Homo sapiens: one gene and its partners. The protein of the gene in region 1 purifies or fractionates together with the protein of each later gene. This does not show direct contact. Each region holds a gene or a part of one and is shown in the gene's direction. Other genes may lie near its edges. The genes, in order: BBS7, ALMS1, FAM83D, RIPK4, CNKSR3, MADD and ZNF518A.

Region 1 (3,929 bases):
TGATTAAATGGAGTAATATATTCTATAGTCATCAATATGAAGACATTGTAAAAGATGACAGTCCTACCCAAATTGATTTGAATATTTATCCTAATTCCAATAAAAACTCCAGTTGAATTTCTTTATGCACAAATATAACATGGCTTAGAACTTCAGGGCTTAGAAAATGCAGGCTTTTTGTAGCTATCCTGATATGGTGCGGAGGTCATTATATTGTTCTATACGCTTCTCAAGCTTCTAGTTGCACCCCTCGCTCCTCCACCATCACTTCTAACTCATCTTCTATAAGCTCCAATAATTCCTCTCAACTTCTCAATATAGTAGAAACTAAACTTTTCCTTCCTTTTTTTAACCTGTCTCTGAATGTGAAATGGCCTACTTCTTGGGCAAGGCCAATATCTCTACCTCTACCCATTAAGCTTGGATCCTCCTGCTTCTTCAAAGTCTTTGCATTCTCATTCTCACATCTGTAGGTTGTTTTTTGTTTTTGTTTTTTTGTTGTTGTTGCTGTTTGTTTTGTTTGTTTGTTTTGAGACAGGATCTCACTCTGTCACCCAGGTTAGAGTGCAGTGGCATGATCTCGGCTTACTGCAGCCTTGACCTCCCACCTCAGCCTCCTGAGTAGCTGGGACCACAGGCATGCACCACCATGCCCAGCTAATTTTTTTATTTTCTGTAGACAGGGTTTCACCATGTTGGTCAAGCTGGTCTCAAACTCCTGAGCTCAAGCAATCCTCCTGCGTTGGCCTCCTAAAGTGCTGGGATTATAGGCGTGAGCCACCACACCTGGCCTGTAGGTTGTTTGTTTTGTGTGTGTGTGTGTGTGTGTGTGTGTGTGTGTGTTTTTGTTTTTTTTGCTTTGTGTTATTTGTCTGGGAGAGAGCTCATTATTCTTTCTCTGCCTCTGCCTCTTAAGGTTCTTTCCCTAAGCAGATTATTGTGGTTTTCTCCTAAGTTCTAAAAACTTAGCATGGTAAAGTCTCAACTAGAGAGCAAGAAGTAGAATACCTCTTGCTTCTCTTGTTATTTTAGGATAATAACAGTATTATTCTAAAAACATAATTTTACCTCAGAATTCAGCCTTTTAGAACCAAGAACTCTTCAGAAATCTAATTGGTTTTTAACATCCATTCTGTGGAGGTTTTTCACTGTACCGTCCAAGGAAGCTTATCTGTGTCTAAACCTGTAATAATTACTCCCATTTTGAAGTACCACAATGAACCTCACACATTAATCATAGCAGACAATTCAACATGCCCCTAGCATATTATATACTTTTATAATAGCAGACCTTTGCTCTTTTATCATTCTGTGTCTTTGAGTATTTTTTCTTAAGATTCAAAACTGTTTATCCTTTAAGGTCCAACTTAATAGCTACTTTTTTTTTTTTAAGAGAGTCTCACTGTGTTGCCCAAGCTGGTCTCAAACTCCTGGCTTCAAGCAATCCTCCTGCCTCAGCCTCCCCAGTAGCTGGGATTATAGGTGCAAGCTACTGCATCCTGCAGTAGCTACATTTTTGAAGCCTTCTTTGATTCTCCCTTGATTCTCTTCTCTGTTTCCATAGCATTTTTTCTTACTTGTCTGTGATATTTATTGTTATCTGCTTAAAGTATATAATAATTTTTTATTTTTTATTTTATTCTTTTTTTGAGACAGAGTCTTGCTTTGTTGCCATTCTGGAGTGCAGTGGCACGATCTTGGCTCACTGCAACCGCCACCTCCTGGGTTCAAGTGATTCTCCTGCCTCAACCTCCCGAGTAGTTGGGACTACAGGCATGTGCCACCACGCCCAGCTAATTTTTGTATTTTTAGTAGAGACTAGTTTCACCGTGTTGGCCAGGATGGTCTTGATCTCTTGACCTCGTGATCTGCCTGCCTCAGCCTCCCAAAGTACTGGTATTACAGGCATGAGCCACCAAGCCCGGCCTCTAATAATTTTTATACAAACTTATTTCTCTAAGTTAAACTTTATTTTCATGGACAGTCTAATTTTAAATATCTTTGTATGTAGCCTGCAAGGACCTAAAACATAGTTTTGCACATAATAGGTACTCAACAGATGTTTTTCGGATGCCTGAATAAAATATATGTGTATGGAGGTAGTGTAGAAGTATGTGCTTTGGAGGCAGATGTACTAATGTTTCAATCCTGGCTCTGTGACTTACCAGCTGTGTGACCCTAGCTGGTTGCTTAACTCTCTGAACTTCAGTTTTCTTTTCTGAGGAATGAAAATAATAGCACTTACTTTATTGAATTGTTATGATGATTAAAAGAAGATAACCATTTGAGTCATTCTATAGTACCTGGCACTATGTGTTTACTAAATATCATCTGTTAAGATTAAAGACTAATAGAAATGTCATGATTTCTAAAACATAATTGAGATCAAAGTAGTAAGGGTGTATTATTTATCTTTCTAGAAAAAAAAATTATCTTTTTTTTTATTTGTTTTGAGACAGGGTCTCACTCATCAGCCCAGGCTGGAGTGCAGTGTCTCAATCTCAGCTCACTGCAACCTCCTCCTCCCAGGCCCAAGTGATTCTAATGCCTTAGCCTCCTGAGTAGCTGGAATTTTAGGAGTGTGCTACCACGCCTGGCTAATTTTTGTATTTTCAGTAGAGACGGGTCTCACCATGTTGGCCAGGTTAGTCTCGAACTCCTGACCTCAAGTGATCTGCCCGCCTTGGCCTCCCAAAGTGCTGGGATTACAGGCGTGAGCCACCACAACGGACCAAAGCAATTATCATTTGCATATAGCTAGTTGGTATACATCATTTGTGTGTGTGTGAAAACCAAATGAAAAGGTAACATTAACTATATGAAAGATGATATATATTAATTAGGAAACTTGGTCATCGTAAAAAGGAACCAAATGCAAGCAGCTTAACCAAATAAAATAAATTTATCGGCTCACATAACTTAAAAGTCTAGCAGTAATCTGCCTCACGCACAACTGGATCAGTGGCTTAATTGATGTCATCAAGATTTTATCCCTTGTTCAGTTCTGCTTTTATCTTTTCTTGGCTTTACCATGCAGTGTTATGGCCACCAGCAGTTCCTAGAATCCAGTCTTACATATTTTCAGCTGCTATAGAGCTTCTCTTGCCCACTGGCTCCAATAAAAGTCCCAGGATTGAGTATCATTGTTAAGCCATGAACCACTGTGGTCAGGGGTATGGAATGTACTGCTCAATGCTTCCTCCTGAAGTCCCAGAAATAGACTGAGACCATTGCCACTGAAACTGAAGAGGGCAAGAGAAAGAGGAGTGGTACCCTAAAGAAAAATAACGATCCTGGCCGGGCGTGGTGGCTCACGCCTGTAATCTCAGTAGCTCATGCCTGTAATCCCAGCACTTTGGGAGGCCAAGGTGGGCGGATCACAAGGTCAGGAGATCGAGACCATCCTGGCCAACATGGTGAGACCCCCATCTCTACTCAAAATACGAAAACATTAGCTGGGTGTAGTGGCATGTGCCTGTAATCCCAGCTACTTGGGAGGCTGAGGCAGGAGAATCGCTTGAACCCAGAAAGTGGAGGTTGTAGTGAGTGGAGATCACGCCACTGCACTCCAGCCTGGCAACAGAATGAGACTCCGTCTCAAAAAAAAAAAAAAAAGAAAAATAATGGTCCTCTGACCATAAGCAGTGGCATTGGATGCTGAGCATGAAAAACAGCAGATGTCACTCTTTCATATTTGATATCAGATTTCTTTTAAGGATAAAGCATATAGTCACACTGTAATTTGTGTGATTACATGAAAGAAAAACATACTTATGTAAGTAAGCAATTCTAAGTGCATTTTATATATGTCTATATATGAGACTAGCTGTTGGAAATATTAGTGAAAAATGAAGATAAAAGTTGTTTAAATGAAGTTTTTATATAAATTGTCACATCTTTAGGAGGCATATATCTTGTTTAGTTTTACG
Region 2 (3,929 bases), on another chromosome or scaffold:
TTTGCATTGTATTATCTCAAGTGTATGCTTTCTCTCCAGCCTGGAATATGAAGTTCAATTTAGCACATGATTGTGGATACTCCATTTCAGAATTAAATGAAGATGACAGGAGGAAAGTAGAAGAGATCAAGGCAGAGTTATTTGGTCATGGAAGAACAACTGACTTGTCCAAGGTATAAAAGAAATCTGGAAATGAAGAAAGTAAATATGAAAGAATGGGTGATGGAATTAGGATCTCTTACTTGGGCATCAGTTGAGTTGCTGATAATATTTGGCTAAAGCCTTTTTTGGTTTTGTTTTTGAGACAGTCTTGCTCTGTTGCCCAGGCTGAAGTGCAGCAGTGCAATCACAGGTCACTGCAGCCCTGAACTCTTAGACTCAAGGAATCCTCCCACCTCAGCCTCTCAGGTAGCTGGGACCACATGTGTGTACCGCCCTGCTCGGCTAATTTTTAAATTTTTGGCAGAGACAGGGTCTCTACGTTGCCCAGGCTGGTCTTGAACGCTTGGATTCAAGCGATCCTCTTGCCTTGGCCTCCCAAAATGCTGGGATTACAGGCATGAGCCACTGTGCCTAGGCAGGCATCTTAATTTTTCAAAAGTTAAGATATAAGTATTAGATTCTTACAGTCTAGATATGTTGTTTTTATTGATTCCAAATTCATATTTTGAAAAATTTATCTTCTTAGAAAAATAAGAACTGATTTGCTTGTTTTATCAATTTTTTTTTTAAGAACAGAGAAGACTAAATGTCACCCTTATTTTCTCTTGAAAGTGGTATCTTGAAATCCAGCTATTTTCAAATGTTTATTTTAAATACTTGAGTACACAGCTATAATAGCTTATGTATAAATGGCTTTCATTTTAATAGTACATATTTTCCTTCTATTAACTATTTCATATGTAGAAAAGAGCATATATGAATCATTTATGTAAAGAATAGCAGCAAGTAAAAATAATTCCCATATATTTACTATCGAGCTTGAGAAATAGAACATTACCAAATACTGTTGAAGTTCTTTGTTTCTCCTTTCCCAGTCATATCTTTTTTATTTCTTATTTTGATATATAATGATTTTCCTTCTCTTCAGTATGGTTTTGAACTCTAAGATGGAATCAATATGATACATATTCTTTTGAGAACTAGGTGTTTCACACAGTGTTAGGGTTTTGAGCTGCTTCTATGTAGATGTGCAGAGTTTTCATTTGTTCCTTATTACTGTACAGTATTCCAGTGTGTGATTACATGATAATTTATTCTTTCTCCTGTGGATAAGGCATTTTGTCTGCTATTTTGCATAGTAATAGGGTATAATAATGCCTATCGTAGAGGGTTTTGGTGTGGATTATGTGAGATAATGCCTATAAAATGCTTAGTAGAACGTGTGATGTCTAGTTAGTACTCAGTAACTGGCAGCTATTATTACTATTATTAATCCTGAAAGAATTGATATAGCTATCATGCAAGGATTTCATGGCCTGATTCATACAAAGTTTCTTAGAAAACTATTCTCCAGTGATATAGTTTATTTGGATTATCTCAATTTTGGAAAAGTTTGAAAAGTACAAATTAGATTGGATTTTAGGTTTTACGTATATGCTTGTGAAAAACAAAATTGACAAAATAATAAGAATAATAAAATGGGCAATTGGTTGTCTTAGCACCATTTGTATATATGCTGCCAAAGTGAGCACTATCCTAGCATCATTTGTTTAAAATTACATAGTTTTCTCAGTGATCTGTGTTTCCCTATTTTTAAAAATTATTTTCTTGCGTTCATATTTCCAGATCCCTCAGCAAGCAAGTTGCCTTCCTTTGGGTAGACTCTGGTTTGTCTGTGTTTTTCTTAAAATAAGGTGTCCTGAATTAGATGAAACACAATTTCACTTCTGATCTGACCAGCATGAAGTATATTCAGTAATTCTCTTTCTGTCAATGTACTGTGAGATCTTTAATGGTCACAGCATAATTGGGCATTAAAAAAAACCATGTACTGCTTTCAAAACTTAAAGCTGTAGGAAAAAAGCAAAGCAAAACAAACCAAACAAAAACCATGAACTGCTGCCAAGATTCCTATTCTCATTTCTTGTATCTATATAATACTTTTTTAAAAATCTTCTTATTTTTGAGACAGAGTCTCACTTTATTGCCCAGGCTGGACTGCAGTGGCATGATCTTGGCTCACTGCAACTTCTACATCCCAGGTTCAAGTGATTCTCCTGCCTCAGCCTCCCGGGTAGCTGGGATTACAGCTGTGTGAGTGGCGCATGACACCACATCCAGCTGATCTTTGTATTTTTAGTAGAGATGGGGTTTCACTATGTTGGCCAGGCTGGTCTTGAACTCCTGACCTCAAGTGATCCGCCTGCCTCGGCCTCCCAAAATGCTGGGATTACAGGCCATTACGCCTCGCCCTATGTAATACTTTTTAACTCTCCTGTATTTCTTTTTATTGCTTTTATATCAGTGTTCAAGCCTATTGGAATGATTTTTAATCAAATTTGATCATTTATTTTATTAAAATATCCCTTTCAGCTTTGTGCCATTTATATATTTGATAAGTATTTTTATCCAAATTAGCAATAAAAATGTTTACTAAGGGCTATGGATAAAAAGTCTAAAACTTTTGGCTGGGCGCGGTGGCTCATGCCTGTAATCCTAGCACTTTGGGAAGCCAAGGTGGGTGGATCACTTGAGGTCAGGAGTTCGAGACCAGCCTGGCCGACGTGGTGAAACCCCGTCTCTACTAAAAATACAAAAATTACCTGGGTGTCATGGTGCATGCCTGTAATCCTAGCTACTCGGGAAGCTGAGGCAGGAGAATTGCTTGAACCTGGGAGGTGGAGATTGTAGTGAGCCGAAGATTGTGCCAGTGCACTCCAGCCTAGGCGACAGAGGGAGACTTTGTCTCAAAAAAAAAAAAAAAAAAAAGGTCTAAAACTTTTGAATAAGATTACTCTCACACCTATTTTGAGTACTTCACTATACTGTCATTCAACCATCTTGTGTTTCACCATCTTATGATTGACTTTTTTCAGTCTATTAACTGAGTAGTTGCGAAATAGTGTTTGTCTAGATATGCCTTGTCCTTAGGGAACCCATATTGGCCACACTGTGTACGGTTTTGGACCTTTTATTTTTTTAACTTAAATATATTAGGATTTCCCTTTAAAACTTCTCTAAAAGCATAATTTCACAGGTATGTAATATCCCATTGTATGAACATAACAATTTATTCACTACCCTACTGTTGGACATTTATTCATTCATTCCAAAAATACATATTGAATGCCTGATATGCGCCATCCTCATCTATAGCCTGAGGACACACCACTGAACAAAATAGACAAACATTTCTTCATCATGAGCTTACATTAAGGAAGAGTATATGAATAACAACCAAACAAGTAAAATAAATGTCAGATGGTGGGATAAGAGCCAGGGAGACAAAGCAGAATGGTCAACACAGAACCTGAGAAAGAGGTATTGAATTAAATATCTGAGTAAGGTGAGAAAGTAAGGCAGTTAACAGTGACAAGAGCATTCCAGACAGAAATAGCATGCACACAGTTGCTGAGGTAAAGTGTGTGAAAGGAAAGGGAGTGTTAAAGGAAAGGGAGGAGGCCAGTGTGTTTGGAGAGTGAGAGTGAAAGGGAGAAGACTAGATTGTGGAAGGCAGTGGTTCTTGACGGGTAGTAAATGCCTCCCAAAGAGATATTTTGGAAAATTATGTGATTTTTCTTGGGTCATCACTGTAATTGGGGATTGTTTCTGGAATGCAGTAGATAGGTGTCAGGTATGTTACTATTTCTATAATGTACAAGACAGTTCCACACAATGAAGAGTTGTCCCTTGTCACATACAGCTTTTGAATGTCCCTGTAGATATTAATGTTGATGAAAAACCTGTTATAAATTACTTCAGTGTTT
Region 3 (3,619 bases), on another chromosome or scaffold:
GCTTTCTGGGGTACAGGTGGGTGTGAGTTCTGCTAGCAGAGGAGGGAGGCGGGGAAGGGACACCGTACAGGCAAGGGCACATGGCCACTAATCAGCTCTAAAATGTTTTGAGCCATGGTGTTTTGTGAAAATGGCAGCACAGCCCCATGACTGTGGGTCCTCCACTGTTAGTGAGGAAGACTACTTCAGCAGCCACAAGGACAAGCTTGAGGGCAGGAAGGCCACTGATGTTGCCACTCAAACAGTAGCAAGGAGCAGGGCATTAGCAATTCATAGGGCCTAGGGTCTGATCTGGAGTCCAGCAGTAGCTCCCCTCTGTGATAATCCCTTTATCTGGTTTCCTTACCTTTAAGATGGGGGTGCTGGCCTAAATAGTTTTCTTACCTTTAAAATGGGGATGCTGGCCTAAATATTTAGAAGCCCTATTTTTTATTTTTAATTAATTTTTTGAGATGGAGTCTCGCCCAGTCATGGAATCTCGCCCAGTCATGGAATGTGCAGTGGTGTGACCTCAGCTTACCGCAACCTCTGCCTCCGGGGTTCAAACAATCCTCCCACCTCAGCCTCCCGAGTAGCTAGGATTACAGTCATGCACCACCACGCCTGGCTAATTTTTTATGTGTTTTTACTGGAGACAGGGTTTCACCATGTTGGCCAGGTTGGTCTTGAACTCCTGACCTCAAAGGATCTGCCCACTTCATCCTCTCAAAGTGCTGGGATTACAGTCATGAGCCACCGCGCCTGGCCCCCTTTCCAGTTTTTAAAAACTCTGAGGCAAGGACCAGGTGAGGTGGCTCACACCTGTAATCCTAGCACTTTGGAAGGATGAGGTGGGAGGACTGCCTGAGCCGAGGAGTTCAAGACCAGCCTGAGCAACATAGCAAGACCCCGTCTCAAAACAAACAAACAAACAAAAAAACCCTCTGAGGCTGAGCATTTAGTGTGTTTGTTAAACAGTTGGCCTTTTTACTTTTATGGTAACACACATAAATGTTATATATGTGTTAAGGCTAGTTAAATACATGCAAATGGTAGGTATGATATCACCAAATTTGTGACCCTTATGTGGTAAGATACCTGTACTATATTATTCAGATGGACAGTGAGTAAAACAAAATTGCTCATCCTTACCAGCTGCTGTTTGTTTCTTTTTAATCTTTAAGTTTTACATGGACGGATGGCAAATTAAACAGCAGTAACTTGGTAATTCTGTCTGGCCAAGTGGTTGAACACTTTGATCTGGAGTTCCGAATCCTGTATGCCCAGTCCAAGCCCATCAGCCCCAAACTCCTGTCTCACTTCCAGAGCAGCAACAAGTTTGATCACCTCACCAACCGAAAACCACAGTCCAAGGAGCTCACCCTGGGCAACCTGCTGCGGATGCGGCTGGCTAGGCTGTCAAGTACTCCCAGGAAGGCGGACCTGGACCCAGAGATGCCCGCAGAGGGCAAGGCAGAGCGCAAGCCCCATGACTGTGAGTCCTCTACTGTTAGTGAGGAAGACTACTTCAGCAGCCACAGGGACGAGCTCCAGAGCAGAAAGGCCATTGACGCTGCCACTCAAACAGAGCCAGGAGAGGAGATGCCAGGGCTGAGTGTGAGTGAGGTGGGAACACAAACCAGCATCACCACAGCATGTGCTGGTACCCAGACTGCAGTCATCACCAGGATAGCAAGCTCTCAAACCACGATTTGGTCCAGATCGACCACTACTCAGACTGACATGGATGAGAACATTCTCTTTCCTCGAGGAACTCAATCTACAGAAGGGTCACCAGTCTCAAAAATGTCTGTATCGAGATCTTCCAGTTTGAAGTCTTCCTCCTCTGTGTCTTCCCAAGGCTCTGTGGCAAGCTCCACTGGTTCTCCCGCTTCCATCAGAACCACTGACTTCCACAATCCTGGCTATCCCAAGTACCTGGGCACCCCCCACCTGGAACTGTACTTGAGTGACTCACTTAGAAACTTGAACAAAGAGCGGCAATTCCACTTCGCTGGTATCAGGTCCCGGCTCAACCACATGCTGGCTATGCTGTCAAGGAGAACACTCTTTACTGAAAACCACCTTGGCCTTCATTCTGGCAATTTCAGCAGAGTTAATTTGCTTGCTGTTAGAGATGTAGCACTTTATCCTTCCTATCAGTAACTGCTCCGTGTTCAGACTCCTGGTTTCTTCCAGGCTTACAGTGGACATCATCAGCTTCCTGCTTTAAAAAATATCTTATGTCCCTAATTGCCTTTCTTTTACCTGACTTTGTCACCTTTGTTGTCTTTGAATTCTTTAGGCTGCATATTATTTTACATGCTTTGTTTTGTCATGTATATACCAGGTATTGGTTTTATGGTTTAAACACTATGGATACAGGGGTTTGTTTTGCACAATTTTAATAGTCATGCACTACATAATGATGTTTTGGTCAATGACAGACCACGTATATGTTGGCAGTCTCATAAGATTATAATACTGTATTTTTACTATACCTTTTCTGTGTTTAGATACAAATACCATTATGTTACAGTTGCCTACAGTATTCAGTGCAGTAACATGATGTACAGGTTTGTAGCCTGTTTTGCATTTTTCTTAGGTTGTATGCTCTTCTGTTTTAAAGGTTTGAATCACCAGCATTTTTGTGATCAAAATCCTATTTAGAAAAAATAAAACTACTTTCTGTTTATCTCTTTAGAATATCTGTGTTCTTAGCATTAAATAAATATAAACTTGTGCTTCTGTACTTTTTCCCCCCCTCTGACACTTTTCTCTTTAAATCTGGGAGTATGTCACAAATTAATGCACCTAATAGATATAGGTATATAGATATCTATATCTGAAGGTTTTTTAAATAGTGTCAGGGTGAGGAAGAAGTAGATGATCCAAACTATAGAAGAGAAAATAGATCCACTTAACCTTCCTCAGCATCATGAATATTGATGTTACTCTATAGTTTAAGTGAGGAAACTGGCCAGAAATAGCAGGCCTTTGCACATGCTCTGCCTTTTCTCTTTTCGAAGAAAAAGCCTGAGCTATTTCAGTAGGTCCTTGGTACTCTGGTACTCTGCTTGTCTACCAAAGGAGGCGTTAGTGTATGTTCCTATATTCATTCCCAATATTAACTCTGGTGGCCCCATGGGCCTCATTTCATCAGCTGGGTGTATTGACAGTGATTTAGCCATCTAATATCCCAGAGTAGGGGCAAAAGAGGACACTGACAATTATCCCAGTTTCCTGGTCCAGTGGCAGGCAGTGTAATGGTTTCTACATCCTTCTAATCAGGATTGGTATGGCTGTGGAATCCTGTTTTTGTCTCATTCTCATGGACAGACAAAAGGGAAGAGAGTTAAATGATGCCTTCCTCCCTCTCCTGACTTAGCTACAGCAAAAAAGATCTATAACAGGGGAAGGTGTCTGCCACATAAAATGCTGATGCACTTGTATCATGAGTGTCCCTACACTCACGCGTGTGCCAGGACTTCCTTATGATGGTCAGGCTATTTGCTGGGTTAGTGCTGTAATCTGTGGCTATAAAGAAAAGGAAAGGAAGGAAATTGATCCATGTCTGCTTAGAAACAACTCTGAGCTAAGCCTCGAGTAAACATATTGTTATTTGAAATCATCTTACAGA
Region 4 (4,628 bases), on another chromosome or scaffold:
GCAGACACTCCATAAATATTTGTCAAATGAAGCACACAGATGATTAAATAAATGAAATTGGAGCGTTTTATTACTTGCGTGGTGTGGGCTCTTAGTCACCCCCAGCTGCGGAGCTGTGTGCCGGAGACTGTAGATGGAGAAAGGTACTTTGCTAGAGCTGAGCCCCGGGAACAGGACAGGTGACTCACTTTCAAGTCCATTCATTTTTTTCCCACCAAAATAATAACTATGTTTACTTCCAAGGTATCTTCGTAGATTCAAAACTCCAATTATTTTTTAAAACATTAGTCCAAATGTAAGTTACATTTGTGACAAGCTTAAAACAACTATTTGCCACTCCAGCCTTAAGGAGACCAACTTTAATTTCCGGAGTATGTGGGAAAGGAAGTGGCTCCCTGGTCCCCCCAGGAGGCCCCCCGAGCAAGCATCGTCATGTTGGGATGTGTGAGTTCCCTCCAAAGAGCGGCCGGATGGGAGTGGGGAGGCAGTGGGGAGACGCGGCTCCCCGCTACAGGCTATGAAAGAAGGTCCGCGCCCGTTTGGAAGGGGGAGCCTGGAGACACTAGGTCTGCGGCTTTCAATGCGCTGACTTGGGGCAGCCTCTCTCTTTCCGAGTTACTAACACAAAAACACAGTTAATGTCGTTAAAATACCCTCTCCTTTAGCTCCGCCCTCCTGTCTTCATTATTAATCTCCTGTGGCCAAAAATAAGCCTTCACTCACCGTTGCGTCTCAGGAATGAGTGAGTGTTTTCTGAGGTGTGGACGCGTGCGTGATCTGTGATGCACTTCGGCCTCTAACCCAAATATCCTTCCAAGGCTGGGAATTTTTTTTCCCCATATGTGAAAAAAAAATCTTTCCTTTTCAAACCATCTGTTCTACCTGTAAAAAGAGGCTGTTATTTAGGAAAGGATGAGGGAACTCTTGCATTTGAAATGGACTTTAGATTTGCTGTTGGGTAATTTTTTAAAAAAAGTTACTTTCTGAGAGGAAACTCGTGTAAAAAAGCAAGACGTGAACCTGCAGGGAATTAGACTAACGAGTGAAGAAAGCCAATTTCAAAAAATTAGGCGCTGTATGATTCCTGTATCTAAACATAACATTTCTGAAATAAAACAATTTTAGAAATAGAGGAAAGATTAGTGATGCCAGGGCTCCGGGGTGCGGCTGTAAAATCGCCACAGGAGTGGCCAGGTGGGGGTGGATACGGGAAGGTACACAGATGATTACATTGTGTAAAACTAATACATGCAAAGGAAGACGAGTAAAACGGCAAAACTGAATAAGATCGGTGACTGTATCAAAGTCAATATCCTGGTTGTGAGATTGGACTTTTTTTTTTGGCAAAGTTTTGCAAAGTGGTAACACTGGGGGAAACTAGGCAAAGTGAATGATTTCTTACAACTGCATGTGACTCCGCAATTAAGGAAAAAAAAAAAGCAAAGAAAAGCAGGGCAGCTGATGCGCACGTCGAGACCCGTGAGAAGCGTGAGAAGCTCTGCTCACCCAGGGGAGAGCGCAGTGACCCGCAGCGTCTATTCATCCGTCCGCAGTCACCGGGCGCTGGCAGAGAGGGCGCCCGGGGGGCGGGTAAGTGGGCGGGGCCTGGGGGCGGGACGACCTACGGAAGTGACGTAACAGGGCGGAGCGCGCACCTGGGCACCTGGGCAGCCGCCGCGGCGCTGGCTAGACGTGCGCGATGGAGGGCGACGGCGGGACCCCATGGGCCCTGGCGCTGCTGCGCACCTTCGACGCGGGCGAGTTCACGGGCTGGGAGAAGGTGGGCTCGGGCGGCTTCGGGCAGGTGTACAAGGTGCGCCATGTCCACTGGAAGACCTGGCTGGCCATCAAGTGCTCGCCCAGCCTGCACGTCGACGACAGGTGAGCGGCCCGGGCGGGGCGCTGGGGCGGCTGGGGCCCGGGCTGGGGTCGGGGTCGGGGTGCTCTGGTCCCGGGGTCCTGCCTCTCTCTCCCGAACTCACCCCCGGAGCAGCTTCGGGGGGGAAACCAATTGCCGGCGAGGCCGCGGGGCTCCGACAATGTCCACTCGGCCTGTCCGGGCCGGAGGGGCGCGGGGGCTTTGGCGAGCCCGGGCTCGATCGCGCACGTCGGGGCCGGGTCAGGCGGCTCCTCTGGGGCTCCTCTGGGGCTCCTCGGGGGCCGCGTCTGCCCGGACGTCCTAAGGCGCCCAGTCGTGCTTCCTGACACTCCCCGAGTGGCCCTGGTTTTCGGGGTCTCCAGCTCGCCTTGCGCCTCGGACCCGCGCCCTTGGGAGGCGCGTCCGGCCCGCCCGGGACCCACCGGGGCGCTGCGGTCTGCGCAGGGCTTAGAAAAATTGCCATGTGGGCCTCTGGGCTTTGTGAGTGGAGTTAGCCTCCGTTCGACTTACTTAGTAATTTACGTTGGAACACAAATTGGTGTAAGACTGTAATTATTTCGGTCGGAAGCTTCGGCTTGGCTCGGGCGAGGCTTCCCGGGCGCCCGGCGCTTGCGCGGTGGAGCTCCGGGGCTCGGGCCTGGCAGTGGGGTCCGGCACGGGGCCCGGGGTGTTGATCCGTCCGCCCAGCGCTTCCTCGCCGCACACTCTCGTTTTAGCTGACTTAATTTCGAGACCGACCCGCTAGGGAAGGGCCTTGCATTCAAGTTCTGTGGCCGTGCCATGGGGCCCTCCTGCACCCCAGTTTCCCAGTCCAAAAGTCAGAATGGAACCTGCCTGTACCTACCTAGCAGGAGTGTTCAAGGTAACAAAGACGAATGGGAAGGACGCAGAGCCGCCCGTGTTAAATTCGGTGGGTCGGTTGTCGTCTGTGCATAATTTGAGAGGTAGGGAGAATGTTCTTGAACAGTACCTCTTTGTTGTTGTAGATTTCACTGTTTACAGTTGATTTTGATGGTTCATATGTAAGGCTCAATTTAGCACGTTTTAATTATTTATCCTTTAATGAAGCTTACCTTCTACATGGAAGCTATGCTTGTATTTTACCTAGAGATTCCTTGAACACATACACTCAGAAGCGACACCTTTTTAAAATACCATTTAGCCTTTGCTGCCTGGCAGACCTGGTTTCGAATGCTCGGCTGATTGAGTGATGGGGCCGCTAAGCCCCAGCTTTTCTGCAGAATCGTTGTGATGCCTGTGTCTGGGGTGGCAGTGCGTGCTGCAGCCCCATACCGTGACTGTGACGCCTCTGTGGATGAGAGGCCTGTCCTCTCCCTTTGCATTTTCGTCCTTGGCTAGGAGACTACACAGCAGAGATAGTGGTGGCTTTTTGCCGTAACCCTCAAATCCAGTGTTTCTTGGAAACACCAGTAGAGTGGTGACGAGTGTCATCAAATCACCACTAGTTCAAAGGTGAGATGCTGGCCCAGGCTGTGCACTTTTTCTCCCCTGCCTCAGATTCTGGGAACTTCTCAGGCCAGGAGGGGTGCTGTGGTTATTTTGATGAAATCCAAACCACTTTGAATACCAGCCAGTGGTTAGGTTCTGAAAGGGAACCCTCTCCATAGGGGCATTCGTTTTATCTCTTGGGGATGTGTGTGAGCTTTAATCATCAGTGAAAATTTTCACACCACTTTCTTATATTGGAAGAGCAAAGTAAACAAGCACCTACCTGGACTGACTCACCAGCTCACATCCTTAGGATCTTCTGTTATTTCTAGCGACCAGTCCCTTATTTCTTGGGTGGCCTGGTTGGAGGGAGGCTTTCTCCACTTAAGGTGGATCACTTAGGATATTGCATAGCTTGGTTGAAAAGTGTTTTGTACTTTAACTGGAAGCCTTTCCTACCCTGCCCAAAGCAGACAGGTGGTGGCATGTCAGGTGGCTAGGTCGAGGTCAGCATCGCCTAGCAGGAAGCATTTCACCTCCTGTGCTCTGCTGGGCCTGGTAGAGTAGGTTGGGGCTTTGCCATGTGCAGCAGTGGCTGATCTTTCTGAGAAGTTGGTCAAACCCTGGCTCTTTGTGAAGCTGATTCCTTTAGGTTAATTATTGACTGTATTGAGCCTGAGGTTCTTGTTAGGAATGTACATCAGTCCCACTGTGCTCCAGGAGCTGGTTGCATTGCAGTCTCACAAGGTTGTACCTAGGCCTTGAAGTAGTCGCTGTGCCACTTGCCCTGCCACATTTCTCAGTGCTTTTCTGACGAGCTGCCTCCCACCCCAGCCCCTCATATTTGCAAGATGTTCCCTGAATTGGGGCATAGGATTCTCCTAGGGTCTTTGTGTGCAGCCCCCGGCCCTGTACCCCTTCTGCCTAAGTCTTGCTTCTCTTCTCGGAGGGACAGCCCCTCTCACCCCTGACACACGGGTCTGGGCCTCTTCCAGGCTGCTGGGGGTCAGTGATGGTCTAGTCCACTTGTTACATAGGAGCCACCACAGGTACAGGTGCAGGTGAGGCTGATTTTCACTGGCCAACGCTGCTTGCCTCTCAAGGTGGTCTGGGGTCTCCTGGCTCCCTGCAGCTCCCCTGGGCCAGGCCTTCAGCCGGCCCTTGGCCACAGCACCTGCTCGGGGCTTGTTTGATGAGCAGGCTGCGCCAGGCCATGTGAGCTTGCTTTTCTGTGCAGGAAAGGTTGGGGGGCCGCCCAGCCCCCAGACACTTAGCGAGGCTCCCAGGGACAGGAAGTGCC
Region 5 (3,929 bases), on another chromosome or scaffold:
CTTACCATGGAATATTCTGCAGCAAGTAAAAATGAATAAATTACAGCTATTCATATCAAAGAGATGGATTTTATTAATATAGTGCTGAGTGGGAAAAAGCATCAGAAGACAACATATAATGGTACACTCTTTTTTTTTTTTTGAGATGGAGTCTCTCTCTGTTGCCCAGGCTGGAGTGCAGTGGCTCCATCTCGGCTCACTGCAACCTCCACCTCCCAGGTTCGAGCGATTCTCCTGCCTCAGCTGCCCGAGTAGCTGGGACTACAGGTGCGCACCACCACACCAAGCTAATTTTTGTATTTTTAATAGTGACGGGGTTTCACCATGTTGGCCAGGATGGTCTCTGTCTCTTGACCTCATGATCCGCCTGCCTCAGCCTTCCAAAGTGCTGGGATTACAGGCATGAGCCACCATGCCCAGCTACATTCTTTTTAAACATTCAGAAACAGGTAAAACTGAAAAATATATAATTTAGACACAACACTTATGTGAAAAGACCAAGTTTAGGATGTTGGTTACCTGTGACGGGGCAGCAAGATTGTGGGAAAGGAAGGAAGCTACAGGTATGTGACAGAGAGTTGCATTAGCCCAAATCTCTACAGAGCTGGTGTCAAGGATGAAACTATTGGTGTTTTATTTGGAAGATACAAGCCCAAGGCGAGGTGAGAAAAAAGAGAAGGGAAGCAAAAGAAGACACAAAGTGACACAAAATGGCATGAACTAAATTACGTTCTCTCCAAATTCACATATTGAAGTCCTAACCCCAGTACCTCAGAATGTAACTGTATTTGGAGATTCGGTCTTTAAAGAAGTGATTCAGGCTGGGCCTGATTGCTCACGCCTGTAATCCCAGCACTTTGGGAGGCCGAGGCAGGCGGATCATGAGGTCAGGAGATTGAGACTATCCTGGCTAACACGATGAAACCCTGTCTCTACTAAAAATACAAAAAATTAGCCAGTTGTGGTGGCAGGCGCCTGTAGTCTCAGCTACTTGGGAAGTTGAGGGAGGAGAATGGTGTGAACCCAGGAGGTGGAGCTTGCAGTGAGCCGAGATTGTGCCACTGCACTCCAGCCTGGGTGACAGAGTGAGACCCCGTCTCAAAAAAAGAAAAAAAGTGATTCAGTTAAAATGCAGTCATTATGGTGGGCTCAATCAAGGACATGTGGACACAGATATGTATGCACATGGAGGAAAGACCATGTGAAGTCGGGGAGAAGAAAACCAGCTACACACTAAAGAAAGAGGCGTCAGGCCGGGCGCGATGGCTCCCGCTTGTAATCCTAGCAGTTTGGGAGGCCAAGGTGGGCAAATCACTTGAGGTCAGGAGTTCGAGACCAGCCTGGCCAGAATGGTGAAACCCTCTCTCTACTAAAAATATAAAAATTAGCTGGGCGTGGTGGCATGTGCCTGTAATCCCAGCTACTTGGGAGGCTGAGGCAGGAGAATCACTTGAACCCGGGAGGTGGAGGTTGCAGTGAGCCGAGATGGAGCCACTGCACTCCAGCCTGGGCAACAGAGTGAGACTCCATCTCAAAAAAAAAAAAAAAAAAAAGCCTCAGAAGAAACCAGTGCTGCTGACACCTTGATCAGTCTTCCACCTGCAGAGCTGTGAGAAGACACATTTCTGTTGTTTAAGCTACCCAGTCTGTGGTATTTTGTTATGGCAGCCCCAACAAACTAATACACAAAATGATGCACAGCCTTGCTGACTATCACTTCAAAATGAGCCAAACAGAGACACAACGGGGCACTAGGCAATTGTGTCCCACTCAGTGAAACTTCTCTGGAAAGCTGTAAGGTATAGTCCAGAGACGAGAGGAAGGGAAGAAGAAATTTATCCTCTGGGAGCCTCCCATTTCCTGTCTCCTAATAGTGAGAATTTTTCCATGAGAAGTTAATGTCCCTATACTTTCACAATGTGTTACCTTCTTTTGTTGCTGTTCAAGATGCCAAGCCTATGCCCTGCAGTGTGGCCTTTTGTCAGAGTCCATAAAGGGCAGGAGGAACTAGGAACTCTGGGTGTGTATGGTTGGCCCAGCTGCAGAGTTGACAGTCAAGGGGATAACCAACTCTAATCAGCCTAGAAGGGAACTTGGTAGCCTAGGTGAGTTGGTCAGGCACAGGCTGGGGCTAAGGCAAGGCAAATGGCTGAGGTCTAAGACGTAGGTGGTGCTGAGAAAATGTGGGGAAGCATACAAGATTTGTGACTGATGAGTAATATTCTAGTTCTTGGTTAGGATAATGGGTACATGGGGTGTTCCTTTTATTATTTTCAAAATGAAATGAAATAAAAGAGGGATATGTGTGGACTGATGATGATGTATAATGAATCAAAGATTATGATTAACTTAACTCTGCATACTTGAGTTTGTTTATTTTTCTATAAAAGGAGAATAGCAATATTAAGTCTTACAGCCCAGGAATGAAATGTCTTTCCATTTGTTTGTGTCTTCTTTAATTTATTTCATCAGTATTTTGTAGTTTTCAGTATACAAGTCTTTCACCTCCTTAGTTAAGTTTATTCCCAAGTATTTTATTATTTTGGGTGCTATTATATATGGGATTGTTTCGCTAATTTCCTTTTTAGATAGTTCTGTGTTAATGTATAGAAATCGCAACTGATTTTTGTATGTTGATTTTGTATTATGCAACTTTATTGAATTCCTTTATTCTAACATGTTTAAAAAATGGAGTCTTAGGGCGTTCTATATATGAGACGATGTCATCTGAAGACAGGGACAAAACAATTCTACAGTCCATATGAAACCACAAAAGACCATGAATAGCCATATCAATCTTGAGAAAGAAGAACAAAGATAGAGGCATCACATTGCTTGATTTCAGAATGTATAACAAAACTACAGTAATCAAAACAGTATGTTACTGGCCAACAGATAGACATATATGTGAATGGAACAGAATAGAGAGTCCAGAAATAGATTCACATGTATATTGTCAACTGATCTTCAACAATGGTGCCAAGAATACATAATGGGGAAAGGATAGTCTCTTCAACACATGGTATTGAGAAAATCAGATATCCATGTGCAAAAGGGGGAAACTGGACTTTTATCTTACATCACATACAAAACCCAACTCAAAATGGATTAAAGATTTAAACATAAAATCTGAAGCTGTAAAACTCCTAGAAGAAAACATAGGCGAAAAGCTCTTTGACATTGGTCTTGTCAATGATTTCATGGATATGACCCCCAAAACACAGGCAACAAAAACAAAAATAAGCAAAGTTACATCAAATCACAAAGCTTCTCACAGCAAAGGCAACAATCAACAGAGTGAAAAGAAAACCTATGAAATGGGAGAAAGTATTTGCAAGCGATGTATGTGATAAGGGTTGACATCTAAAATATGTAAGGAATTCATAACTCAATAGCAAAAAAAAAAAAACCCAATTTTTACAAATGGGCCAAGGATCTGAATAGCATGGGCTCTGGCATCTTGAACAGCAATGAAAGAAGCTAGTTGACACATTGCGAGAGTATAGGGATATTAACCTCTCATGGGCAAATTCTCATCAATGAGAGGAAATGGGAGGCTCCCAGAGGATAAAAGGTGCTCATCATCACTGATCATCAGGGCAATGCAAATCAAAACCACCGTGAGATATCAACTCTCACCTGTCAGGATGGCTATCATTGAAGAACCAAAACACAACAAATATTGGTGAAGAAGTGGACAAATTGGAACCCTTGCATACTGTTGATGGGAATGCAAAATGGTGCAGCCACTAAGGAAAACAGTATGGGTGTTCCTAAAAAATGTAAAAATAGAACTGCCATGTGACCTAGCAACCCTATTTCTGGATATTTATCCAAAAAAATTGAAATCAGGATCCCAAAGAGGTATTAGCATTTGCAGGTTCATTGCCGCATTATTCACAATATCCAAGATACACAAACAATCTAAG
Region 6 (4,671 bases), on another chromosome or scaffold:
AGGCAAAAGCTGTGTTTGTCTCTCTCCTTTCCCCAGGACCGACTGATGTTCCCACGGATGCTAATGAAACTGGTGAGCCTCCGGACCCTGAGCAGCGTCCACTCAGAGCAAGTGTTTGCACTGCGTCTGCAGGACAAAAAGCTCCCACCGCTGCTCTCTGAGATCTGGGATGTGCACGAATGACTGTTCTGTCCCCATATTTTCTGTTTTCTTGGCCGGATGGCTGAGGCCTGGTGGCTGCCTCCTAGAAGTGGAACAGACTGAGAAGGGCAAACATTCCTGGGAGCTGGGCAAGGAGATCCTCCCGTGGCATTAAAAGAGAGTCAAAGGGTTGCGAGTTTTGTGGCTACTGAGCAGTGGAGCCCTCGCTAACACTGTGCTGTGTCTGAAGATCATGCTGACCCCACAAACGGATGGGCCTGGGGGCCACTTTGCACAGGGTTCTCCAGAGCCCTGCCCATCCTGCCTCCACCACTTCCTGTTTTTCCCACAGGGCCCCAAGAAAAATTCTCCACTGTCACTCTGTGGTATGGCCATAAATGCCTCAGCGCCGCCTCACTGATAGGTCTGGTACTGTTTGAACAGGAAGATCAAAATGAATACAAAATGAGAGAAACCAATTTCTGGATTGGGGGTGGGGACACGGTAATAGAGGAGGAAGCCTGCGATCTTTAGGATCCGCCTCCAGGCCCAGAGGAGGGAGAGTCACAAATGACAGCCTTGGCCGTGAGAGGGGGCCTCTTCTTACTAACCCCCACTGCGCCATATGGGTAAATGGAATGCTGAGGCTTAGGCGCCCCCTTCCCCTGCTGGGATCCGGGTAGGATCCGGTTGCCTTTCTGCGGTGGAGGAGGAAGTGTTGGATTTCAGCGCTAAGGCGTCGGCGGTGCACCTCACGTGCATGTGTAGCATGCCTTGGTTTTTCCTTTGGCATCTGAAAAAGGCACAACCTGAAAGACCTAGAACCCAGTGTCGGTCCCCAGGCCCTTTGGGACAGGAAGAGAAGAGCCGTGTGGCCGCGGGGAGGATGTCCTGAGGCGGGGCTGTCCTCGCGGACTGACTGGACTCCATCTCCCAGCGGGCGCCGCGGCGCGGCCACGCCCCCCCACTCCCCGCGCGCGCCCGGTGGAGGTAACCGCGGCCGCGCGCCCCCCTCTGCCCCCGCTGCCCAGGATTGGTAGGCTCCACCGCTCGGCAGCCGGCTTCCCTGCTCGGACGCCGAGCACCGCCAAAGCGCGTGAGTGGGGGGTGGGGACTGGGGGATGGGGAGCCCGTCAGGAAGTCTCAGGGGCCGATTATCTTGGGAAGTGACTTTCAGAGGAATCCCCATGTCGTCGAAACGGGCGCTATGACCCCGTCGGGTGAGAGTCTCTCTGAGCAACCCAAACAGAAGGTACTGCTGTGGGTCCCCCACTTGGCACGCGACGGCGCTGGGTCGGCCTGGCGCGCCCTCCCGCGCCCACGGGCGCTAGGCTAGGTCTGTGCGCAGCCGCTGTCTCCCGAGGTCGGCCCCGCCCCGCGGCGCTCGGCTCGGTGCAGCCCCGGCCCCCCGGGCTGAATGGTACGGCCCCGGCCCCGGCCTCCCCCTCCGCACCCCGCGCGAGTGGTGCGTGCCCCCCAGTGCAGACGCGGAACTGGCGCCCGCTCGGAGCGGCGCCGCGCTGGGGAGCGACTGACGCCCCGCTGCCGGGGGACGTCGGGCTGGGCCTGGCCAGTCCCCCAGAGCTTGGGAGGTAGGAGAGTCTGGGCCGGTGGGGTCCTGGGCGAGCGTCTGGGGACTCCGAGCGGGAGACGGGCTCTGAGAGGACACCGTGGCTCTTGGAGGAAGGGGTCTCTCAGGAGGCCCTGGGGGAGTGTGAAGGGGCGTGGGGACGGGGGTCTGCCGAGGAGGGGCGGGGACGGGGATGGGGGCGCCCCGGGCAGAGGAGGGGGCTCAGGCTACTGGGCTTGGTTCCTGCCGAGCGGGCGGCTCGGGTTCAGGTTCGGGGCGGGGGCGGGGGCGGGGGAGAACTGTCCAGCAGGTGAGGGGGCGGGCAGAGCTGGCCAGCCCTGGGGCCGAACCCGCACAGCGCTTGGCGGGTGTGCTTGTGCGTGTGCGTGCTTGCGCCTTATTTTTGGCTAGAATTTGGAGAAACACGTTTGGTTCTCAAGAAATTTTTTTTTTAACTTGATATTTCAAAATTGACTTGCTGGAGAGAGAACACCATTTCATCTTTCTGCAATCGCTCTCCTCCCCATCCTCGTGTATCTACCTTCTTCCACCTTTCCCTGCCCTCCCCTCTACCCCAACCCTGCCAGCTGCCAGCCTCCTTGCTCCAGTTCTCCCATACGCTGGACCAGTCTGTGCTGATGAGCTTGCAAGGTCACTGCCTGGGGAGGTAGAGGAGGGGAGGAGAGCCTCCTGTTGTGTTCACGTCAGCAGAGATGTCATATCGCTCTCTGGTTCCTGTGGTTTTACTGTGAGATCCTGTCCAAAATGAGGGACGAATCCAAAGGGTTGGTTAGCATGGCTATTTCTGCTGAAAAGGCATAGATAACTTAAAAGTTTGTGAATCCTAAATCTACCTCTGGGTGGAGCTGATGGTGATGTCGGACTTCAGCAGATAGATATGCATTTTGAGCTGGATGCTTTTGGAATACAGGAAGATAGGAACCAGAGGCTCTACGTTAGTAAACATGGTTGAGGCAAGAGGCAGAGTCGGAGCCTCGTTGGTTGTGAAGACAAGAGTGTGAGTTGTGGGTGATGTTAGAGGATTTAGTCTTTAGAGGAGTTAAAGGTGTTAGTCTTTTTGGGGAGGGGAGAGAGGAGAGAATGAGAAGGAAAATCTTAGTTATCTTTGCAATCTGAATAACTGAAGGCAGTGGCTGCTGATCAGATGTGAACTCTGGCTAAAAATTTATCCTACCACCCGTAGCTAGAATAATAACAAGATCTCAGGGTCCTTGTGGCTCTGGAAGGAAATGATTGTGAGTGACTTGAGTTTCGTCAGATAGTTGTCAGTGGAGAGGGACTGAGATCCCACCAAGGCTAGAGAGGCCTGATGCGTACTCAGTAGGAGGTGCTTCAGGCCTGATCTTTGAGATTTTGGTTGGAGAGGGCTCCGGGTTTTCAATGTAAACATAGATTGCAAGGTGTAGTCTAGAGCTCTGGTTCTATAAATTCTGTTTTACTTTAAGATACTTTGGCTCTCACTCTAGTCATTTCTACATAATTCTTTTTTTTTTTTCGAATCCCATGACAGGTTAACTACATAATTCTTTATTAAAACAAATTATGCTTTTTACTCATATCCCATTTCATTTCTCTATTTCTCTCCCCCTTGGATTCTGCTCAGGAGGAGCTGAGTGCGGCTCTGTTATAGTGCCCCACCTCCTGCAGTTTGCTCATGACTCTATTGCAGTTGGGAGAACCAAGGGACTATTTGGGTTCGTTAAGCAGTGGTGATACCTAGAAATGAATATATGGCGTGCTCAGAAACCTGGTGGTGTTCTAGAGATATCACTATCAAAAGCCAGAATTAGGACGAAGTACAAACTACAGACAGATGAGGGAGAAGACAACCTAATTCTTAGCAGGTACTGTCAGTGGGAGAAGTGTCTCTAGGTTCGAGGAGAGTGAATTGTTATGGGCCTTGGCTGACTCTGGAGTAGCAGCTGCTAGCACTGTGCGGTCACCAAGCAGGGGAGGGGCTGTGGCTCTGCTATAAATAGTGCTGGGAGCCAGAGTCGCTATAGAGATAAAACTGAATCCTATTACCTGCAGGTCCTCTACTGGGAGCAAGGGAAAGGAGAAAGCAGTATTTTGAGGATTTGAGAGGTATTGCAAATAGGTCTTGTTTATTGTTAGGTAGGGGAGAAAAAACTTCTACTCATTACCTAAACCAAATAGGGCCTTAAGCATCCAGGGAGTGTGTATGTCTGTATATATGGGAGTGCCCGCAGCAGCAGGTGAGGGAGTAGAGGGTGTGTGTGTGTATACGATAATGGGTTTCTCTCCGTGTGCATTGAACAAGGTCTTAGGCCGCATGTAGAGCACAGAGGTAGAATCCTGGAACACTAGAAATATGAGAAAAGAACTTCTACTCATAGAAGAAGTAGCCCTACCAGAAATAGCTGTGCAGCGGGGTGAAACGTTTTATTTAGAGAAGTGTATAGACACTTAACACGAAATAAATTATAATTAAGACCATGAAAGCTTTTCCTAATTTTAGGACATAGTTTAGAAATTTCTCTGAGCACGTCTCCCTGTCCTTGCAGAAATCCTGGTATTTCTGCCTCTAATTCATAGCCTCTGTAATGTATAGTAGGACAAGGACTCATCTGTGGGTATTGTATTACTGATTCTGAGCCTGAGATCAAAATAGAGGAGAGATTATGATTCAGCACCAAGGGCAGAGCTAGTAGCAGTGGCCTCTGGGCTCCTTTCTTGCCTGAAGGAGGGAGAAAAGTGGTGCAGATTAGGCAATTGGGGCATGGACATTTTCATTTGAGATCACATGAGGTAGAATAGCCAGCTGTTATTGTCTGAGCATGGTTAACTAGACAGTCTATGTGGTAGTTTTACATCAAGCTGAATGTAGATTGTTGAAACAGAATAATTAAGTTTCCATCTAGACCTAGAAGTGCAGGTTAGTGCTAGCTAGTTGAGGAGTCTGGTTTGATCCTGATCCA
Region 7 (3,929 bases), on another chromosome or scaffold:
TGTTCACCAGGCTCACAGTCAGGTGCTGCAAAGGACGGTACTGCTAATTTGCAGCCCCAGACTTTGGACACTAATGGATTTTTAACAGGAGTAACAACTGAGTTAAATGACACAGTTTATATGAAAGCAGCTACTCCATTTTCATGTTCATCTTCTATACTTTCAGGGAAAGCAAGTTCAGAAAAAGAAATGACTTTGATATCTCAAAGGAATAATATGCTTCAAACAATGGATTATGAGAAAAGTGTATCTTCTTTGTCAGCAACATCAGAATTGGTTACAGCATCAGTGAATTTGACCACAAAATTTGAAACAAGAGATAATGTTGACTTCTGGGGAAATCATCTCACTCAGAGTCACCCCGAGGTATTAGGTACCACCATTAAAAGTCCAGATAAAGTCAACTGTGTTGCCAAACCAAATGCATACAACAGTGGAGATATGCATAATTATTGCATTAATTATGGCAACTGTGAGTTACCTGTTGAATCCTCCAACCAAGGATCATTACCTTTTCATAATTACTCAAAAGTGAATAATTCTAATAAACGTCGTAGGTTTTCAGGAACAGCAGTGTATGAAAACCCTCAAAGAGAATCTTCATCCAGCAAAACAGTTGTCCAACAACCAATTAGTGAATCATTTTTATCACTAGTGAGGCAGGAGAGCTCAAAACCAGATAGCCTATTAGCATCTATTAGCCTTTTAAATGATAAAGATGGAACTTTAAAAGCAAAATCTGAAATTGAAGAACAGTATGTTTTAGAAAAAGGACAAAACATTGATGGACAAAACCTGTACAGTAATGAAAATCAAAATTTAGAGTGTGCGACTGAAAAATCTAAATGGGAAGACTTTTCTAATGTCGATTCACCTATGATGCCTAGAATCACATCTGTTTTCTCTCTCCAGAGCCAACAGGCATCAGAATTTCTGCCACCTGAAGTAAACCAATTGCTTCAGGATGTATTGAAAATAAAACCTGATGTAAAACAAGACTCTAGTAACACTCCAAATAAAGGCTTGCCACTTCATTGTGACCAGTCATTTCAAAAACACGAGAGAGAAGGCAAAATTGTTGAATCTTCGAAAGATTTCAAAGTGCAAGGCATCTTCCCAGTTCCACCTGGCAGTGTGGGTATTAATGTGCCTACAAATGATTTGAATTTGAAATTTGGAAAAGAAAAACAAGTGTCATCAATACCACAAGATGTGAGAGATTCAGAGAAGATGCCTAGAATTTCAGGTTTTGGCACATTACTTAAGACTCAGTCAGATGCGATAATAACACAGCAGCTTGTAAAAGACAAACTACGAGCCACCACACAAAATTTAGGTTCTTTTTATATGCAGAGTCCACTTTTAAATTCAGAACAAAAAAAAACTATAATTGTTCAGACTTCAAAAGGATTCTTAATACCATTGAACATTACTAACAAGCCTGGGCTACCAGTTATTCCTGGAAATGCACTTCCATTGGTTAATTCACAAGGTATCCCTGCTTCTCTTTTTGTAAACAAGAAACCTGGGATGGTTTTAACACTTAATAATGGGAAACTTGAAGGTGTTTCCGCTGTCAAAACCGAGGGTGCCCCAGCTCGTGGAACTGTGACTAAGGAGCCTTGCAAAACACCTATTTTGAAGGTAGAACCAAACAATAATTGTCTTACACCTGGACTTTGTTCCAGCATTGGCAGTTGTTTGAGCATGAAAAGTAGCTCAGAAAATACTTTGCCATTAAAAGGCCCTTACATTTTGAAACCAACGAGTTCTGTGAAAGCTGTTCTTATTCCTAACATGCTATCTGAGCAACAGAGCACTAAGTTGAATATCTCCGATTCAGTAAAACAGCAGAATGAGATTTTTCCAAAACCACCTCTTTATACCTTCTTGCCTGATGGCAAACAAGCTGTTTTTTTAAAGTGTGTGATGCCAAATAAAACTGAGCTGCTTAAGCCCAAATTAGTCCAAAATAGTACTTATCAAAATATACAGCCAAAGAAACCTGAAGGAACACCACAAAGAATATTGCTGAAAATTTTTAACCCTGTTTTAAATGTGACTGCTGCTAATAATCTGTCAGTAAGCAACTCTGCATCCTCATTGCAAAAAGACAACGTACCATCTAATCAGATTATAGGAGGAGAGCAGAAAGAGCCAGAATCTAGAGATGCCTTACCCTTCTTACTAGATGACTTAATGCCAGCAAATGAAATTGTGATAACTTCTACTGCAACATGCCCAGAATCTTCTGAGGAACCAATATGTGTCAGTGACTGTTCAGAGTCCAGGGTATTAAGGTGTAAAACAAATTGTAGAATTGAGAGGAACTTCAATAGAAAAAAGACTTCCAAAAAAATTTTTTCAAAAACAAAAACTCATGGAAGTAAAGACTCTGAAACTGCCTTTGTATCTAGAAACAGAAACTGTAAACGAAAGTGTAGGGATAGTTACCAAGAACCTCCAAGAAGAAAAGCAACATTGCATAGAAAGTGTAAAGAAAAGGCAAAACCTGAAGATGTCCGTGAAACATTTGGATTTAGCAGACCTAGGCTTTCAAAAGATTCCATCAGAACTTTGCGGCTTTTCCCTTTTAGTTCTAAACAGCTTGTGAAATGTCCTAGGAGAAACCAACCAGTTGTAGTTTTGAATCATCCTGACGCAGATGCACCAGAAGTAGTAAGTGTAATGAAAACTATTGCTAAATTTAATGGACATGTACTTAAGGTTTCATTGTCAAAAAGAACTATAAATGCTTTACTGAAACCAGTTTGTTATAACCCTCCTAAAACAACTTATGATGATTTTTCCAAGAGGCACAAAACATTTAAACCTGTTAGTTCTGTGAAAGAAAGATTTGTGCTAAAATTAACACTCAAAAAGACAAGCAAAAACAATTACCAGATTGTGAAGACTACCTCTGAAAATATTTTGAAGGCTAAATTTAACTGTTGGTTTTGTGGTAGAGTATTTGACAATCAGGATACTTGGGCTGGTCATGGGCAGAGACATTTAATGGAAGCTACTCGGGATTGGAACATGTTAGAATAGTTTACCATAATTACCAAGGAAAAGAAAAGTAAAATTACCTTAGAAGAAAACAACGGGTTCAGTTACCATAATGCAGACATTTTCTACTTCAGTATAGTACCTGAAATCGAACATTTTAAAAGTTGATTGTATTTCTGTGGAAGAGTAAAAGTTGTATGTATGATATTTGAAAATGCTATCCCTGCACTCAAAAGTTTTGAAAGAAACTAATCACAGCACAGAAGTACCTTGATTTAATTTTTTAAACGTGTTCTCGGGAAGTTAGGGCTAAAGAAAATTTTGATAAAACAATTTTCCCACTTTAGTTCTTTAGTGACTCTTAGTAGAGGGTAATGGCTGACACCCCCATTCCCTCTCTTCTTCCACCAGCCTTATGCATCTAAGTGTAGCTCCTCTGGAGATGGAGAGCTCTTTCATCGTAGAACTGAAGGAGTTTCTCACATTTGTGAAGATACTTTGAGAGAACCTGGGTAAAGAAGTCACTCTATATCTGCTAAATATAGTTATTTTGAAGGATATTAGGCTCCTTGAAAGTACATTTAACTCACTACAGTTACACCTCATACAATGCTTGAAGAGTTTTTGGCAAGTAAATTTTTTTTCCAGTTGAACTCTGTCACTTGTTAGAGATTGGGAACACTCTCCCAAGGTGATTTTCTTTTTCTAAGTGACTGTGTCAAATGTTGCAGTAGATGGGCAGCTTCAAGAGAAGAATTTAAACTCTTTGTCTCATTGAAAGTTTGGTTAAAGAACTTGAACATATTTCTAAATTTGATTATATTCTCTGATGATCCCTTTGCACAGAACTATGCTTATCTCATGTTTGTCCTCCATAAACAAATGGCCATTTTTTTCTTCTTGGTTCCCATCCCTTTAAA

What was found.
Region 2: the proteins of BBS7 (region 1) and ALMS1 purify together in Homo sapiens (co-immunoprecipitation; 3 studies listed by BioGRID and IntAct, with this or other methods). This does not show direct contact.
Region 3: the proteins of BBS7 (region 1) and FAM83D purify together in Homo sapiens (affinity purification with mass spectrometry; 2 studies listed by BioGRID and IntAct, with this or other methods). This does not show direct contact.
Region 4: the proteins of BBS7 (region 1) and RIPK4 purify together in Homo sapiens (affinity purification with mass spectrometry, with the first as the bait; 2 studies listed by BioGRID). This does not show direct contact.
Region 5: the proteins of BBS7 (region 1) and CNKSR3 purify together in Homo sapiens (affinity purification with mass spectrometry; 2 studies listed by BioGRID and IntAct, with this or other methods). This does not show direct contact.
Region 6: the proteins of BBS7 (region 1) and MADD purify together in Homo sapiens (co-immunoprecipitation; 3 studies listed by BioGRID and IntAct, with this or other methods). This does not show direct contact.
Region 7: the proteins of BBS7 (region 1) and ZNF518A purify together in Homo sapiens (affinity purification with mass spectrometry; 2 studies listed by BioGRID and IntAct, with this or other methods). This does not show direct contact.

What each region holds. Positions count from the first base shown.
Region 1 is NC_000004.12:121,828,924-121,832,852, reverse strand, and holds part of BBS7 (BBSome complex member BBS7), read left to right. Parts: intron 1-3,929.
Region 2 is NC_000002.12:73,455,123-73,459,051, forward strand, and holds part of ALMS1 (centrosome-associated protein ALMS1), read left to right. Parts: intron 1-39; coding exon 40-173; intron 174-1,980; exon of another isoform or gene 1,981-2,204; intron 2,205-2,818; exon of another isoform or gene 2,819-3,929. UniProt on the Homo sapiens protein: Involved in PCM1-dependent intracellular transport. Required, directly or indirectly, for the localization of NCAPD2 to the proximal ends of centrioles.
Region 3 is NC_000020.11:38,950,376-38,953,994, forward strand, and holds the end of FAM83D (protein FAM83D), read left to right. Parts: intron 1-1,163; coding exon 1,164-2,145; 3' UTR 2,146-2,731; downstream 2,732-3,619.
Region 4 is NC_000021.9:41,764,113-41,768,740, reverse strand, and holds the start of RIPK4 (receptor-interacting serine/threonine-protein kinase 4), read left to right. Parts: upstream 1-1,688; 5' UTR 1,689-1,699; coding exon 1,700-1,881; intron 1,882-4,628.
Region 5 is NC_000006.12:154,388,423-154,392,351, reverse strand, and holds part of CNKSR3 (connector enhancer of kinase suppressor of ras 3), read left to right. Parts: 3' UTR 1-3,929. UniProt on the Homo sapiens protein: Involved in transepithelial sodium transport. Regulates aldosterone-induced and epithelial sodium channel (ENaC)-mediated sodium transport through regulation of ENaC cell surface expression.
Region 6 is NC_000011.10:47,268,514-47,273,184, forward strand, and holds the start of MADD (MAP kinase-activating death domain protein), read left to right. Parts: upstream 1-1,619; 5' UTR 1,620-1,733; intron 1,734-2,143; exon of another isoform or gene 2,144-2,467; intron 2,468-2,565; exon of another isoform or gene 2,566-2,729; intron 2,730-3,448; exon of another isoform or gene 3,449-3,597; intron 3,598-4,671. Other genes in the region: NR1H3 (oxysterols receptor LXR-alpha), read left to right, coding at 37-183. UniProt on the Homo sapiens protein: Guanyl-nucleotide exchange factor that regulates small GTPases of the Rab family. Converts GDP-bound inactive form of RAB27A and RAB27B to the GTP-bound active forms.
Region 7 is NC_000010.11:96,157,724-96,161,652, forward strand, and holds part of ZNF518A (zinc finger protein 518A), read left to right. Parts: coding exon 1-3,051; 3' UTR 3,052-3,929.